Linked DNA regions of Homo sapiens: region 2 is linked to region 1. Evidence: fine-mapped expression QTL. Tissue or cell type: whole blood. Region 1 holds a variant in brackets; the other region holds the start of a gene. All regions are shown on one strand. Distances are from middle to middle.

What was found. PIP is the estimated chance that this variant, and not a neighbour inherited with it, causes the effect.
Region 2: SOS2 starts here. The variant in region 1 is fine-mapped to the expression of SOS2 in whole blood (TOPMed, PIP above 0.99).

Annotation. Positions count from the first base shown.
Region 1 is chr14:50,052,654-50,060,760 of GRCh38, forward strand. It overlaps LINC01599 (long intergenic non-protein coding RNA 1599), which reads right to left. Exons shown (of 9, transcript NR_131171.1): 3 at 121-251. It also overlaps the pseudogene RPS15AP2. Among named protein-coding and RNA genes, the nearest start is that of LINC01599, 48 kb to the right of the region's middle. RefSeq lists enhancers at 3,299-3,358, 3,409-3,528. The variant G/A (reference allele first, on the strand shown) is at 3,089.
Region 2 is chr14:50,227,035-50,235,141 of GRCh38, forward strand. SOS2 (SOS Ras/Rho guanine nucleotide exchange factor 2) reads right to left here and starts at 4,544. Exons shown (of 23, transcript NM_006939.4): 1 at 4,163-4,544. The coding sequence starts at 4,249. RefSeq lists a silencer at 4,136-5,215 and an enhancer at 5,366-5,455.

The DNA of each region.
Region 1 (8,107 bases):
GGCCCCATAAGATGTTTCTACAAAGTGAAGACAGTACCTGGGTATGACACATAGGCATGCATGCACGCACGTGCGTGCACACGCACACACAGACACACACACACACACGCTTATACTCACAGCCACTCCATCTCGGTGCTGTTCATCAGCCAAAACAAAAGACAGCAGAATCCCATCTTTCTTCCATTTTCAGTGCTGCCGCAATGGTCTGCATGAGTGGCCTGGCTGACACCCTCAGAGCACCAACAATGCTGAAAAGAGAAGCAGACACCAGGTTCTTTTTTTCTCTTTCTTTCTTTTTTTGAGACAGAGTCTTGCTCTGTCACCCAGGCTGAAGTGCAGTGGCGCGATCTCGGTTCACTGCAACCTCCACCTTCTGGGTTCAAGTGATTCTCCTGCCTCAGCCTCCCAAGTAGCTGGGACTACAGGCATGCACCACCAAGCCTGGCTAATTTTTGTATTTTTGGTAGCGACGGGGTTTCACCATGTTGGCCAGGCTGGTATTGAACTCCTGATCCCAAGTGATCCACCTACCTCAGCCTCCCAAATTTCTGGGATTACAGGCATGAGCCAGTGTGCCTGGCCAACACCAGGTTCTTATTAGGCTGTGCTCCAATATCATCATCTGGTTTCTCATTGTGATGATGAAGCTTGATAACTTTGGAAAATTTGAAATCGTCGTTGATCCTAGAACTGAGAAAATTGTTGTGACCCTCACAGGCAGGCTAAATAAATGTGCAGTGATCATCTCCAGATTTACTGTGCAACTCAAAGACCTAGAAAAATGGCAGATTAGTCTCCATCCCATCAGTTTGGTTTTATTGACCTGATGACTGAAGCTGGCATCATGGACCACGAGGAAGCACGAGAAAGGCACAGAGGAGAGAAAACCCTGGGATTCTTTTTCTGGGGATGAAATACATGATTACAAATTAAATGCTTCCCTCAATAAACAAAACCGAGAGAGAGAGAGAGAGAGAGAGAGAGAGAGAGAGAGAGAAGAGAGTGAGCAAAGCCCCAGGTCAGTTGTCTGCCGGCTGCTGCTCTGAGTCTCAGCCAGAGCTCTGGACGAGGAGGAACTCAATCCCCTTGGCATCCCCATGAGTGCCTAGAGTGGAGATTTCTCCTCTGCAGCAAACTGGGTATCTAGTACATGTGGACGTTCTCACTGAGGAGTGTTTCAGAGCCATTAGCAGACACAGAAGTATTCTGGCCATCCAGGGAGTTGGTCGCAGCTCGCTCTAGCAGAGGAGTGAGGGACTAGGGGCCCGGGAGTTAGCATGCTTGCCTAGGACATCTGTGGAATCTTTATTTTCCCTTTTTTCCTGCTGAATGAGGTGAGAGAGTTCTCTAAATGGGTATGGGGTCAAGGAACACTTATTATTTTTGGAATAGTTACAAAGATCTCTCAGGCATAAATGAGACTTGGAAACTGGACTACTCCTCCCCTCCCCACTTCCATTTGATGAATGACAGCTCTTCATGTATGACACACCTACCATGTGACATGCACTGTATTAGATGCTTGACTTCTGTTGTTTTAGTTGGCACGTTCTTTTCACACAGTTGAAAATGAGGCCCAGGTGCTCACGTGATTTTTAGAACCTAGGGTAGAGCCTGGAGCATCTGCCCTTCACCTCCATCTTCCTCACTCTGTCAGCCTTTCCCAAGGCATTCTCAGTAGAGGCCTAGTCTGGGGGGACCTTCTGTGGTCAGATGAATTGGTTGGGCACTGTCAGCACTTTATGTGCCCCTTGGTTTCAGGATGCTGTGAGCTGAACATCACAGGATACCCTAAGGCCTAAACTACAAAGTGACAAACCCAAAGGGCCATTCTGGGGTGGTTAATGCAGCAACTTAACAGCATCAAAGATCAAGACCAGTTTCTCTGAGATTTTCTTGGCTTTTCCCTCATGATTCCAACAGGACTGCAGTAGCGCCAAGCCCATGTCTTCACATGACAATGTCCTAAGGCAGGAAGGGGCAAGTACTCATCCTGTGTCATGTTTTAAGAGCCAAGAAATCCTTCCTAGAGGTTCCCAGGGCCGATCGTCTTTGCATTCGTTACATGCAGGACCACAGCACATGGCTATAACTAAAGCAGTTACTGAAGGAAAATGGCTCCGACCTGTGAACATTTCATCCTGGGACCAGGGAGGAGCCCATGAGACACACAGGTGCTATAAACCAACAAAACTGAGGGTCTCTCAGCAAAGGCGTGCGGCAAGGAATGTTGAGCAGGAAACCAACACGGTTTTCCATACCCTTCTTGAAGATTTGCATTGCACATTAATATGTTTAAGGCTCTATTGTAAAGAAAGGTATTTTACTTCTTTTTTTTTTTTTTTTTTTTTGAGACAGAGTCTCACTCTGTCACCCAGGCTGGAGTGCACTGCCGTGATCTCAGCTCACTGCAAGCTCCACCTCCCGGGTTCATGGCATTCTCCTGCCTCAGCCTCCCAAGTAGCTGGGACTACAGGCACCCGCCACCACGCCCGCTAATTTTTTGAATTCTTTAGTAGAGACAAGGTTTCACCGTGTTAACCAGGATGGTCTCGATCTCCTGGCCTTGTGATCCGCCCACCTCGGCCTCCCAAAGTGCTGGGATTACAGGTGTGAGCCACCACGCCCGGCTGGTATTTTACTTGTTTTAACCCAGTGCTTCCCAGACTTTTTTTTTTTTTTTTGAGACAAGAGTCTCGCTCTGGAGTGCAGGCTGGAGTGCAGTGGTGGGATCTCGGCTCACTGCAACCTCTGCGTCCCGGGTTCAAGCAATTCTCCCGCCTCAGCCTCCTGAGTAGCTGGGATTACAGGCGTGCACCATCATGCCCGGCTAATTTTTGTATTTTTAGTAGATTCAGGGTTTCACCATGTTGGCCAGGTTGGTCTTGAACTCCTGACCTCAAATGATCCACCCGCCTTGGCCTCCCAAAGTGCTGGGAATTCAGGCATGAGCCACTGCGCTCGGCCCAGACTTATTTTTTCTTGGAGTTCTTATTAACTCCCTGCAGACACGGTGAGCAAAACTGGGTCCGCCATGCTGTTTTCCTCAGTTAAACGACTGTCCTGAGAGCTCTTTGGCACAGCC[G/A]TGCAGCCAGATAGTGCCCTTTGCAAACACCAGAGAACAATGAGAGCTAGAAGAATGGCTGGGTTCAGTCATTTGAAGGAAAGAGTTTTCTTTGGCTCATTTAATGGGAAATAAAGGCAAGAGTTCTTTCCTGTGGGCTTCTTTTCCTTTTGGCCATTCTAAATTAATAGGTTTAAGACATTACTTTTAGTTTAATTTCTTTCCATTACACTTTCAGTACTCCAGTGCCACCAGGGAGGGCAGCAATGACTGCTTTTAATAGTGATTAAAGACGGACCCATGGTTAGGTCAAACCAGGCCTGCACCTCCTCCCATGCTGCACGTGCATCGGCATCAGCAAAGCCTGCAAGAATGCTCTTGAGTGATGACTTCCCCATGGCCACTTGTCTGCAGCAAGCAGCCTGCCAGAAGCCGGGACAGCTGGCAGCCCGTGCCCACCAAGCTCTCAGCCCCAAAACCTCTCCTTCTCTCTCCTCCTCAGTCCTCCTGTCTCCCCACCCATAGTGTGTTCTCTAGCAATACATCCATTAGTTGTTTCCCTGCTGCTAGACATCTAGATTACTTAAACTGCTTTTGCTGTTGGAAGCAATGCCTCCCTGAGCATGCGTGTGAGCATTTCTCAAAGGTAGATCCCAGAACGAGGAATCACTTGGTTCACCAGGCTTGCACATTTAAAAATGTGACAGATACAGGCTTTTAAACTGCTCCATCGCCTTGGTGCAGAATGGAACTCCTGAGAGGTGAGGTCAGCGAGAAGATGTGAGTGGCTCTGAGCTGACGTTAGCCTGTGTGTTCCTGTCCCAGCACTCACACCGTGCAGGGAGGGAGAAGTTACGAGTGGCTCTGAGCTGGCCAGTGGACCGCATGTTCCTATCCCGGCAGTCACACAGTGCAGTGAGAAGATGTGTGTGGCTCTGAACTGGCCGGTGGACCGCGTGTTCCCGTGTGGCACTCACACCAGGCAGTGAGAAGATGTGTGTGGCTCTGAGCTGACGGTAGCCTGCGTGTTCCCGTCCCGGCACTCACACCCGTGCAGTGTTGCTTCTCCTGCACTTGCTGATCCTATAATTGATATAGGGAAGGGCCTGGTAATGGATTGTCTCAGGGGGAAAAAATGATTCCCCTTCTATGTTTCTGCTCAGTCATTTCCTCTTCCGCCGGGGTGGGATGAGATAGGAATAGGAAGGGTTTGAGGAAAGAAGTCCTTTGTTTAAAAATAGCAGAGAAGTGCTGCTTGGTAATTTCCCTGATTTTTACTCACTGAAGAACCTGACTCCAGCTCTTCTTGAGTTTGGGATGGACAATGGAATGGCTTGGCGCCATCCTAGGCTCTGTCATGCGTTCATGCAACAAGCATTTGTTGAACACCTCAGGGGTATAGCATACTGATTGATCAGGGCATCACTGGCCTTCATGCAGATGTGGGGTCCTGGGAGCCCCCTACTATTTGAGTCAAGGCCTGTTTCATTGTTCTTGACTGAATGTTTGTGTTTCTCCCAAAATTCTTATGTTGAAGTCCTAATCCTCAGGGCAATGGTATTTGGAGATGGGGCTTTTAGGGAGGTAATGAGTTAGGTGAGGTCACAAGGGTGGGGGGCCTCGTTCTGATGGGACTACTGTCCTTTAGAAGAAGGAACACCAGAGAGCATGCTCACTCTCTCTCCCCCCTCCCCATGTGAGCACTTAGCAGGAAGGCAGCTGCCTGCAAACCAGGAAGAGAGACCTCACCAGGAACCAGATTAACTCGCACCCTGATCTTGGACCCGGAACTGTGAGAAAATACATTTCCGTTGTTGAAGCCACCTAGTCGATGGTATTTTATTATGGCAGCCCAAGAAGACTAAGACAGCTGGGTAGCTGGGAGGTGCCATGGGGAGCACACAGGGACTTGGGGAGTGACCAGCCACCCACTGGTACAGAAGTATTTCAGTATTTCAACAACAGATACAAAAATGCTAGCACCAGCACTGTTCATGGGGTTTACATGCTAGTGAGAAGAGACAGACAATATACAAAATAAGCAAAATAAATAGTGTGTCAAATGGTGTAACCTCTGTGGAAACAAACAAGGCAGAGAGAGAATTAGCAAGTGCCTTGGAGGAGGGAGGTTGCTACTTTATGTTGTACAAAGAAGGAAAGAGAAGGAGAAAGGCGTGCTCCCTATCCTTTAAGGCACACTATCATTTAAGGGCATTTTACAGAAGTTGTGCACACTTACTTATTCTTAAAGCCTCTTGCTCAGAACTTAATCATACAGCCACACCTTGCTGAGAGAGAAGATGGGAAACACAGACCAAATTCTGGAAAGCCATGTGCACAGCTGTGGGTCAGGGGAGGTGGGGGTCTCTGCTACTGAAGGTGCAGAGACTAGGAATTGGGAGGCCACCAGCCACAACAGGGGAATAACATGACTGGATTGTGTTGTAGAAAGATAATTTTTCAGGATCTGTTGGGAGACAGTTCTCCATGCGTCTCTAGCATTTGTGGGTGTCTTATGAGCAGGAGCACTCACTGCCTCTGTTCTGGAATCTCTTTCCAAAGGCATTTGAATAGCAAATAGCCTTGGAAGACAAGACTCTCCCTTTGGAGCAAAGTACAGGCATGCTTAGTGCCTAGTATAAGAAAGATAATGTCTTCTGCAGAAGAGGTCAGAGACTTATTGCCTATCATAAAAGATGCTGATTCTCTAAGCTCAGCATTCCTCCCCTCTAACACAACCCACTGTGTGTGCAGGTGCAACTGGGCCTTCTTTATGTTGACCTGTGGAAATTGGAGCCAAGGGAACCAGCATAAGAACATATACTTAATTTCCACTTTACAAGAACAGATATATATATATGTAATTATTCCCATGTATCAAGGGAAAATTGTACCTTTACAATGAAAAGATCTGGCAGACACCACCTTAACAAGGTGATCAAACTTAACACACCAATAACTGACATCATGTGTCTCTTAATGTGATACACTGAAAAGAATCCAGTGTTATCTCTGTTAAAAATATACAGCATGACTCTAATCATGAGGAAAAAGCAAATCCAAATTGAAGGATACAAAAAATGCTAATATGATGAAATATAAAAAAGGACAGGAAAACAATTCTAGGTTACGGGGGCTAAACAGATAAGACAACTAAATGCAATTTGTTATCCATGATTGGCTCTTGAATTGAAAAGGGAAAAAAAACTATCATAATATCTTATATCCATAAACAAATTCCACTTGGCAAAATTGAATGTGGATATATATTAATATTAGATATTATTATATCATTGTTAATATTTCTTTTCTTTTTTTTTCCTTTTTTTTTTAGACAGAGTTTCAATCTTATTGACCAGGCTGGAGTGCAGTGGCGTGATCTTGGCTCACTGCAACCTCTGCCTTCTGGTTTCAAGCGATTCTCCTGCCTCAGCCTCCCAAGTAGCTGGGATTAGAGGTGCCTGCCACCACGCCTGACTAATTTTTTGTATTTTTAGTACAGATGGGGTTTCATGTTGGCCAGGCTGGTCTTGAACTCCTGACCTCGTGATCCACCTGCCTTGGCCTCCCAAAGTGCTGGGATTATAGGCATGAGCCACAGCGCCCAGCCCTGTTAAATTTCTTGAATGTGATCACGGTATTGTGACTGTGGGGAAAATGTTCGCATTCTTAGGCAATACATGCAGAAATATGTAGGGGAGAAGTGTCATGGCATCAGCAACTTATTTTCAAATGGTTCAGAAAAAACACACATACATGAATATATAGGGAAAAAGAGAACATAACTGTCACTAAATGCTAATAACTGGTGAATCTAGGTGAAGGGTATGTAGGTATTCACTGAATTATTCTGTCAACTTCTTTGTAGTTGGATTTTTTTAAAACAAAAAGTTGGAGAACATGGAAAAGAATCCTGGTGGCCTGTGAAGGATGGATGGGGGCAGGGGGTGGACCTGGTTTGGGGACAGCTGTACTGGGAGCTCTGTCCCCTCAGGAAGTCTCTCTCCACCACTCATCATGGCTTCTCCCTGCAGCATGTCCCCTCGCTGCTGCAGGCAGGCTTTGCCAGGCTGCAGATGCATGGCCACAGGCCCCTCTGGATTCCCAGCCTTCCAGCAAGCATCTAGAGAGAAAAGAGCCTGCTGCAGCTAGAAAAACCCTGGGATCTAATGAGCTCAGCTTGGGTCATGTGCTCCTCCCAACTCCCACTCCTACCCCTGCCAACCACCCATTGGGTCAGACCCATGCACTCCAGGCACTGAGGGGAGAGCTAGGAGGGAGAATCAATCAGACTCGGGAGGGAGAGGGCAGAGCAGCAGAGGGTTAAGGATGAGCCAATGGTTTCTAACTAGGGGGACTAGGGAAGGCAGCCTTAACTGAAAGAGAATACAAGACAAGCCAGTTTGGGTGTTCTGTTTTGAACTCGATAAATTCAGAAGCTTTGCGAGGATCTAGGGGGAGAATCTCACAGATTGCTGGGAATACAAATCTGTAGCTCAAAAACGCATTGGCAGTGCCTGCTGCTTGATGAAGGCATGGGTGTGCGGGCTTCATCTGGAGAATGCGGAAGATTCCATCATGCCTAGCAGGCTAGCACGGAGCCCCCTCTCCTTGTAACCAGGCTCGTTGGCGACAGAGATCCTGGCAAATTATGAGGAAGTAGAAGCTGGGAGCCATTCAAAGTCATCACATCCACGTTTCTCTTCAGGGACTCAGCCAGGGCCGCTCCTGCTGCTTGTTCCAAGGCACACTGGGAGTTGTTGGGCAAATATTTGCACAACATTTAGGCCCTAAACCTGCAATGGCCTGAGCCCCTCCATGACAGAGCCTCCTACCCGGGTGCAGGCAGCTCTCTCAGCTTCTCCATCAAACCTAGCTACAGCAAGGGCTGTTGAGCCACTCCAAGCTCAAGTCTGGTTTTCCAGAAAAGATGTCCTGCCAAGAAATGTGTTACTGAAGAGGGAAAGGGAAATATAACCAAAGGCCAGGGTACTGGCACCTTTCTCCTGTCCTCTCCTGAAAACAGGGACCTCTGCTTCC
Region 2 (8,107 bases), 170 kb after region 1:
TTAGCAGTAATGTTAACAATCCATGCATTATCCATTAGTAGTGTCATTTCACTCTGCTTTGTAGCTCTCTGTTTTTAAATGATCTAGGTGAGGTTCTATTTTAAAAGTTTAAGAACAAGCAAAAAGCTAAAGAACACCACATTTCTATTCCCAAAATTATTTTTCCATAAACCTATTTGTCTATCTCTGTGTTTCTTTTTCTTTCTTTCTTTCTTTTTTTTTTTTTTTGAGACAGAGTCTCGCTCTGTCGCCCAGGCTGGAGTGCAGTGGTGCGATCTCAGCCCACTCTAACCTCTGCCTCCCATGTTCAAGAGATTCTCTGCCTCAGCCTCCCGAGTAGCTGGGATCACAGGCATGCACCACCACACTTGGCTAATTTTGGTATTTTTTTTTTTTGAGACAGAGTCTTACTCCATCGCCCATGCTGGAGTGCAGTGGCGCGATCTCGGCTCAACTGCAAGCTCCACCTTCTGGGTTCATACCATTCTCCTGCCTCAGCCTCCCGAGTAGCTGGGACTACAGGCGTCCGCCACCACGCCCGGCTAATTTTTTGGGTTTTTTTCTGTATTTTTAGTAGAGATGGGGTTTCACCGTGTTAGCCAGCATGGTCTCGATCTCCTGACCTCAGGTAATCTGCCCGCCTTGGCCTCCCAAATGGGATTACAGGCATGAGCCACTGCGCCCAGCCCATCTCTGTGTTTCTATGTAATGCAATGAATACTTGAGATTGGTTTTTTAAAAATCCCTTGAATTTTCAATGTTGACAATGGTGACTTTGTCAAATACATATATATATGGATCTATATATGGGTATATATGGATATATACATGGATATAGACATAGATATCCAGTTTTCATAAAAACTAGCCAAAACTGGAAAATAAGCAAAAGAATACTGGCTGTGTTTCAGTACAGTGCTATGCTTGAATCTTTTATTAATTTCTACTGACTATTTTACACATCTATAAGATTAAGTTACAGCTTTTCAGCAGATAGAGATGCAAGTAATTTTTTTTTTTTTTTTGAGATGGAGTCTCGCTCTGTCGCCCAGGATGGAGTGCAGTGGTGTGATCTCGGCTCACTGCAACCTCTGCCTAGCAGGTTCAAGTGATTCTCCTGCCTCAGCCTCCTGAGCAGCTGGGATTACAGGCACACACCACCACACCCAGCTAATTTTTGGTATTTTTTAGTAGAGACGGGGTTTCACCATGCTGGCCAGGCTGGTCACGAACTCCTAAACTCAGTTGATCCACCAGCCTCAGCCTCCCAGAGTGCTGGATTACAGGTGTGAGCCACCACGCCCACTGAGATGCAAGTAATTTTTAGCCAGAGGAAAATATAACCCAAAGCCTACTCTTTTATGTTTCTTGTAGGGTATTAACTAATTCTGTATGTAACCCAACAGTCTTAATATTCCCTTATTAAATTGCCTATAAATACCTCCTCAAATTTTCATATTAAGTGACTTTAACATCTTACTAGTTCCCTCATCAATGGGCTGAATCAAAATAATTGATACATGTTCATTTACATTTGCATGGAAGTGATGACTTTACCTTTCTGAAAATTACGTTCTAACAGTTTTGGAGGTTCCACCAAGATGTCCAAGTGGACTAAACTGACAGAGCCAAGTAAGCTACATTGCTGCTTTCATAGACACACAAATACCCCTTACTGAACTCTGAGCTCAGAACCGCTCTCATTTACATAAACCAAAACCTCAAATTTTAGAATTTTTGGTTTAGATGGTATACATCTTTGGAGGGGCCTTTATTTTAACTTTGTACTCTTAGGATCCCGCATCATGTCAAGTATGTAAAATGTGTTCAATAATGGTTAAGTGAATTAATGAAGCTAGAATACACCACATGTACAATGGCAACACCAATTGAAGGAGAGAGATATTCCAATCAAATCCTAGTTGTCTTTGTAACGATCTGGTCAGCTAGAGGAAGGATGCCAAGTTCTAGATGCTCTGAATGTGAAGACAGAGACTCCCCCAAAATGGTAGAAATTCTCATTTTACAAAGACAAGGTGGCTGATGCATACCAGAATTTAAAACTTCCTGCAAAGAAAGAGTGAACCTTTAGCTCCCTAAGAGCTACAGCTCTTAGCAGGCACTACAGACCTACAAGTTGCAATGTCCTAAATACCATAAAAGTGGACATAATCTTAATTACTTTTACCAAAATTTTTCCAAAAATATAAAAAAATTTTCCATACGTATGTATTTCAATTCTATCACAACAGTAAGTTAATAGAAAATGTTTTCTGAATTCACCTCAAAAGACCAAATTTTCTTAGATGTATTTATTTCATAAAGAACATACTAGAACTGTGGAATATAACATAGTATCTACAAGGCACCTGAGTTCCAGGAAAACAAGCACAATATAAATGCAAAGTAATAGCACCAAAGCAATGGACTAGGATTGGATGCTAATCTTGGCTTCTCCAGCCTAACTTGAAAAAAAAAAAAAAAAATCTGGGTCTGGTGCGAGGTGGTTTATGCCTGTAATCCCAACAGTTTGGAAGGCAGAGGTGGGCGGACTGCTTGAGGCCAGAAGTTCAAGACCAGCCTGGGCAACATAGCATAACCCTGTCTCTATTTGAAGAAAAAGAAAACATAAATCTGTTTCTGGACATAAAGGATTATTAGAATCAAAGCTACCTATTGAACAAGTTATGCAACACACACCCAAATACTATTTGCTACCAGAAAGTTATAAATGGGTATATACCTGCGTCACATTGCCAACAATATAGGCCTACCTGATTACTGCACTCACACTTGTCTGTGGTCAAAGGGCTAATTACTATCTAGGCATTTCCCCCTTTGCTTTTAATTCAGGCCAGAGTTCATTTTCACCACTCAGCACACTTTTCATTTCTTTCCCTCTCCTTACAGAATTGGGCTGCACATGGAAGTAAGGTCAATTTAATACTTTAGCACTTGGTATACCAATGGAATAACTGTCTAGCTGCCACTAGTCATTTCTGCCAGGTTCTTTAAAAAGATACGACTTAGTGTTTGCCCTGAGGAAAGCAATACTTCCTTGTAAGAATTATGAAAATAAGGGAAAATCTGCAACTCTCATCGCATGAGGAAAATGTCTTTAACTTTAAAATACACTACTTCCTTTCATTTATAGAAATTTAATGTCTGAGGATATATTTTCCAAGTATAGTCTTTTAAATTAATCTTTATTTTTTCCTTATTTTAGAATGTATTCTTGGTTATTTTGCACAAAAGGCAGAAGAGACTAAGTCTGCATTAACGGCAAAGAAAGAAAGCCCCTGCTCAACAGGCATGACAGCTGATCACGCACCTATTCACAGTCTTTAAATGTCTTGATCTTACAGAAGGATTTATTATAAAAATGATCGTATGGTTACTACCTAAATTCACAGAGGAAGACCGCCACCATCTACAGGAAAGATGCACCCTAGCAATGCACCCAAACATGAAAGACTGATTTGCAGGAGTTGCCCCTTTCTTGTTCCTTAAAATGATTTCAAGTCCTAAATCGCAATTTGGTCGTGAAGACACTGAAGACACTGACCAAATTTTCTAAGGGTAATCTCTTGTAAACAGGTAAGACACCGTTTGCAGGAAGTGGGAAGGCGCTTTAAATTTACCTTGAGAACTGTAAAATGAATAAGAATATTATGACTCACTGACATTTCACACATGTGAAACATCCATATTACAAAAAACCATTGCCTCATAAGTGGATACCCTTGACAAGCAAACCGCCTAGGGGGAACACTCCCAAAGAACTTAATTAAAAGTAATTACCCGGCCTGAAAATGTGCTTTTGTTTTAGAAACTGTCTAAATACCAGCGGGACTTTCTCTTGCCCGATTCCAGCCTGAGGACAACAAATTGGTCAACGGCGGAAGTTGCCTGACGAAATGACTGCAACATGAAATCCAGTTTTATGATCATAACAAAACCTTCCTTCCGGGACCAGGCAAAAAAAAAAAACTTGAGAAACGTCCTTCAGAATGCAACAGGCAATTGTGAGCCCCCCATTGCCAGCCAACGAGAAACGGCTCGGCCCCGGGGACTCGAGCCCTGTGGGAGGGACGACCTGCTCCCCGTTAGAAGCTCGGGGGGCCACGGGCCACCCGCCGGCCGCCCCGCCCCTAGCACTGACCTTCCGCAGGGCCGAGACCAACAGTCCCCGCCATTTCGGACTGTTCTCCTCGCTGAAGAACTCGTAAGGCTGCGGCGCCTGCTGCATGGCCCCGGCGACAGCGCCTCCGCATCGGGGGCAGCCCGCGGGCCGGGCCGGTGGCCTGACAGGCAGGGCGCGGGCCGCCTCGCCTCGCCGGCGGCCGCCGCCTCCCGCCCGGGCCGAGGCTACGGCCGAGGCGGCTCGGAGGCGGCGCCGGCGGGCTGGCGGAGACCCCGGGGTCGGCTTCCTCCGCCGAGGCGGCCCTCGCCTCCCGCAGCGCCCGCAGAGGAAGCGCGGCGACCCGCAAGCCCGGGCGACCCCGGGCGGCGACCTCCTTTCCCGGCGGCGCTGGCCCGCTTCTGGGGCGGCTCCTCCTCCTTTGTCTGGGTTCGCGGCCCGTCAGGGGTACAGCTGGCCCAGCCCCGCCCCGACTCCCGCTACGGCCGCGGCGGGCGGTGAGCAGCGGCGGCGGCGGCGGCGGCTGCTCGTCTCCTCATCGCCTCCTCCCCGCCCTCCCAGCCGACAGCGCCGCCCGGCCCTGCCCACTCGAGTCACCTCCACAGAGCTCTGGGGACCGACCCGGAGTGCGCGTCGGGCGAGCGAGCCTCGCTATGGCGCGCACAGCGCTGGCCGCCGTTGCTGCCCCTTTAGCAGCAGCGCAGAGTGCCTTGGGGTCGCCGCTGAGCCCTGAGTCCCAGCAGCCGAGGCTCGGCCCGCCCCCTCGGCCCGGCGCTCATTATCCCGAATAGCCCAAGAGGCCTAACACGGAGCATGCGCGCCGCGGAGCAGGCACAGGCGCCAGCCCGGCGCGGGGGTGCGGGGCCTGGGGCCCCGGGGGAGTCCGCTTTTCCCGAGACTGTGCTGGGGGCCGCTCCAGACTCTTCAGTTTGACTGCTTTTTACCCATATGCTCCCTCCTCTCGACCTGCTTAAGACAATCCGGACTCGGTGCCACTCTTGTAGCGCTGGAGCCCCAGGACTACCGTCGTGGGAGGCTGCATAGGGACGTGGAGAGAAAGGGGCATTCGGGCTGGACAGGATATTTAACGTATTTGTGCTCTACGTGGCTTGTTTTCATGAGTACCGTATGTTTACACAAAGTAGGTACTATATATAATATATCGTTAGGAGATACAGTAACTATTTCTTAGGGTGATGGTGTGGGGACCGAGAGATGAGGCGTGGAAAGCCCTTAGCCTGGTGGTAGGGTCAGAAGGGGCAGATGACAGTGACGTTGATCAAGCTTGAATTGAAAGGTCCTTCACTTGCACGGGCCCCTGTGCGTTCACAAAATCATATCGTTTTTACAAAACTTTCAAGATATTTTCGAATTGTTTTCTTAATCGTGTCATCCAAATTGTGTAGGCTTCAGGTCCTACAAAACCTGGATCGGCGTCTAGGAAACACTCATTAGCAACCCAGAAAAGATCCTGACAAGCTTTTCAATCCAAAGAGGCATAGGCTCTGGTAACTCATTACCACAAATTTCATCCCACTAAAGAGGCTGAGCACATTACTTTTAACAGGTTGTAAAGAAGATATTTTACTCCCTGTCCCTAGCCACCAGCAGTGAGAAAGGGAAAAGACGAACAGGGTACAAAAAATAAGTCAGTACTACAATTCAGTTCCGGCATCAGTAGCTGAGCAATTATTCTCCCCAAAACATGCACCACTTTTTCATTTGGGCAAAATCAGAATGGCAGAGTTGGAAAATAAGATTATTTTTCTAATCCACTAAAGTATCCACTAAATCAAGAACATCCTCTAATAAATGGCCATATCCATTCACATGTACTTGGGATAAAAGGTGGGATGGTAAAATGCTTGTATTTCTCCCATTAATGTTTCAGTCTGTGAGAGCGAAGACTTTGGCTTATATAGAGGGTCCTTACTTTTCTCTCCTGTTCCCAGACTCCAGCTATAAACTACTGTGATGTCAAACTACTAGACCATGTATGTTCTCTTTACTCATAGGAGAGTAAACTTGTTAGAAATCTCATTCTTGGCTAGGAATATCAGAAGGCTTTTCTGGGCCAAGTCAGGCCTGAAGACATATTTTGTTTAGCTAAGGCTGTATTTAAATTTAATTGTTAACATTTTAAAATCAAGAGGCTTCATATAAAAATGTATATTTTCAGCTTCTCTTGACAAAGATCTGGCAACACTGGGACCTACTGCATTCGTGCAAGAGAGTAATCAGCAGGCACCGGGTAGTGGCTGCCCTCTTTATAAAAATATGCCATCCATTTCCAGTTGGCTATACTTCCCACCTGGCACTCTTCACCCTTTTATGTAACTTGCCTAGTCTCTACAGGCATCTGAGTTCTGATGTCTGGGCTGAGCAAACAGAAATATGATCCACGTGCATGTGGAGGATAGTCCAAGAATGACAGCAGTAAAAAGTTTCCCATTCAGGGCCGGGCGAGGTGGCTCACACCTGCAATTCCAGCACTTTGGGAGGCCGAGGCGGGTGGATCACCTGAGGTCGGGAGTTTGAGACCAGCCTGACCAACATGGAAAAACCCCCTCTCTACTAAAAATAACAAAACTAGCTGGGCAAGGTGGCGCATGCCTGTAATTCTTAGCTACACGGGAGGCTGAGTCAGGAGAATCGCTTGAACACGGAAGGTGGAGGTTGTGGTGAGCTAGATCACGCCATTGCACTCTAGCCTGGGCAACAAGAGCAAGACTCCGTCTCAAAAAAAAAAAAGTTTCTCATTCAGACAAATGGGCTATCTAGAAAAAATGTTGGATCCATACCCTATACAATACACTAGCAAAAACTCCAGATATGTCAAAGATTTAAATGTAAACAATAAAACCATACAATGATTCATTTATAACCTCAGAACGGAAAAAGACACTTTCACTATGACACAAGATCTAAAAGACCGATAAATTCAATTTTTATAAATGTATGAGCCGGGCATGGTGGTACATGCCTGTAATCCCAACAACTCCAGTGGCCGAGGTAGAAGCATAGCTTGAGGCCAGGAGTTGAAGACCAGCCTGGGCAACACAGTAAGACCCTGTCTCTTTAAAAAAAAAAAAAAAAAAAAAAAAAAAGGGCAAAAAAAATCACCAGATAAGCCAAAAGGAAAATGACAAACTGGAAAAAATAGCAGCAACTCATTTTTGTGGGTTTTTTGTTTGTTTGTTTGTTTGTTTGAGATGGGGTCTTACTCTAACTCAGGCTGGATTGCAGTGCAGCGGCATGATCTTGGGTCACTGCAACCTCCGCCTCCTGGGCTCAAGTGATCCTCCCACTTCAGCCTCCCGAGTAGCTGGAATCACAGGCACGTGTCACCATGCCCGGCTAATTTTTTGTATTTTTGGTAGAGACAGGGTCTCACCATGTTGCCCAAGCTGGTGCAATTCATTTTTGTAGTTAATTTCAGTAAAATATAAAAGAGCTCCTACAAATTAAAAGGCTAAAATTCAATAAGAAAAACAAAGGGGCCAGGCACAGTGGCTCAACACCTGTAATCCCAGCACTTTGGGAGGCCGAGGCAGGAGGATCCCTTGAGCCCAGGAATTGAAGACGAGCCTGGGCAACATAATGAGACCCCATCTCTATAAAAAAACTTTTTAAAAAATTTAAAACAAAAAAAGAAAAAAGAAGACATACAAATGGCAAATGGGATATGACAAGGTGCTCAACATCATTGATCATTAGAGAAATGCAGATCAAAACTACAATAAGATATCATCTCACCCCAGTTAAAATGGCCTATATCCAAAAGACAGATAATAACAAATGCTGTTGAGGATGTGGAGAAAAAGATAATTCTCTTTTGGGGGTTATACTGTTATCATTTTTCACCTATTAGAATAGCACAGATGAAAAAGTTTGATTACACACTATGATGGTGAAGATATGAGGAAACAAGCATTCTAATATATTGTAAGTGTATTAGGACTATAA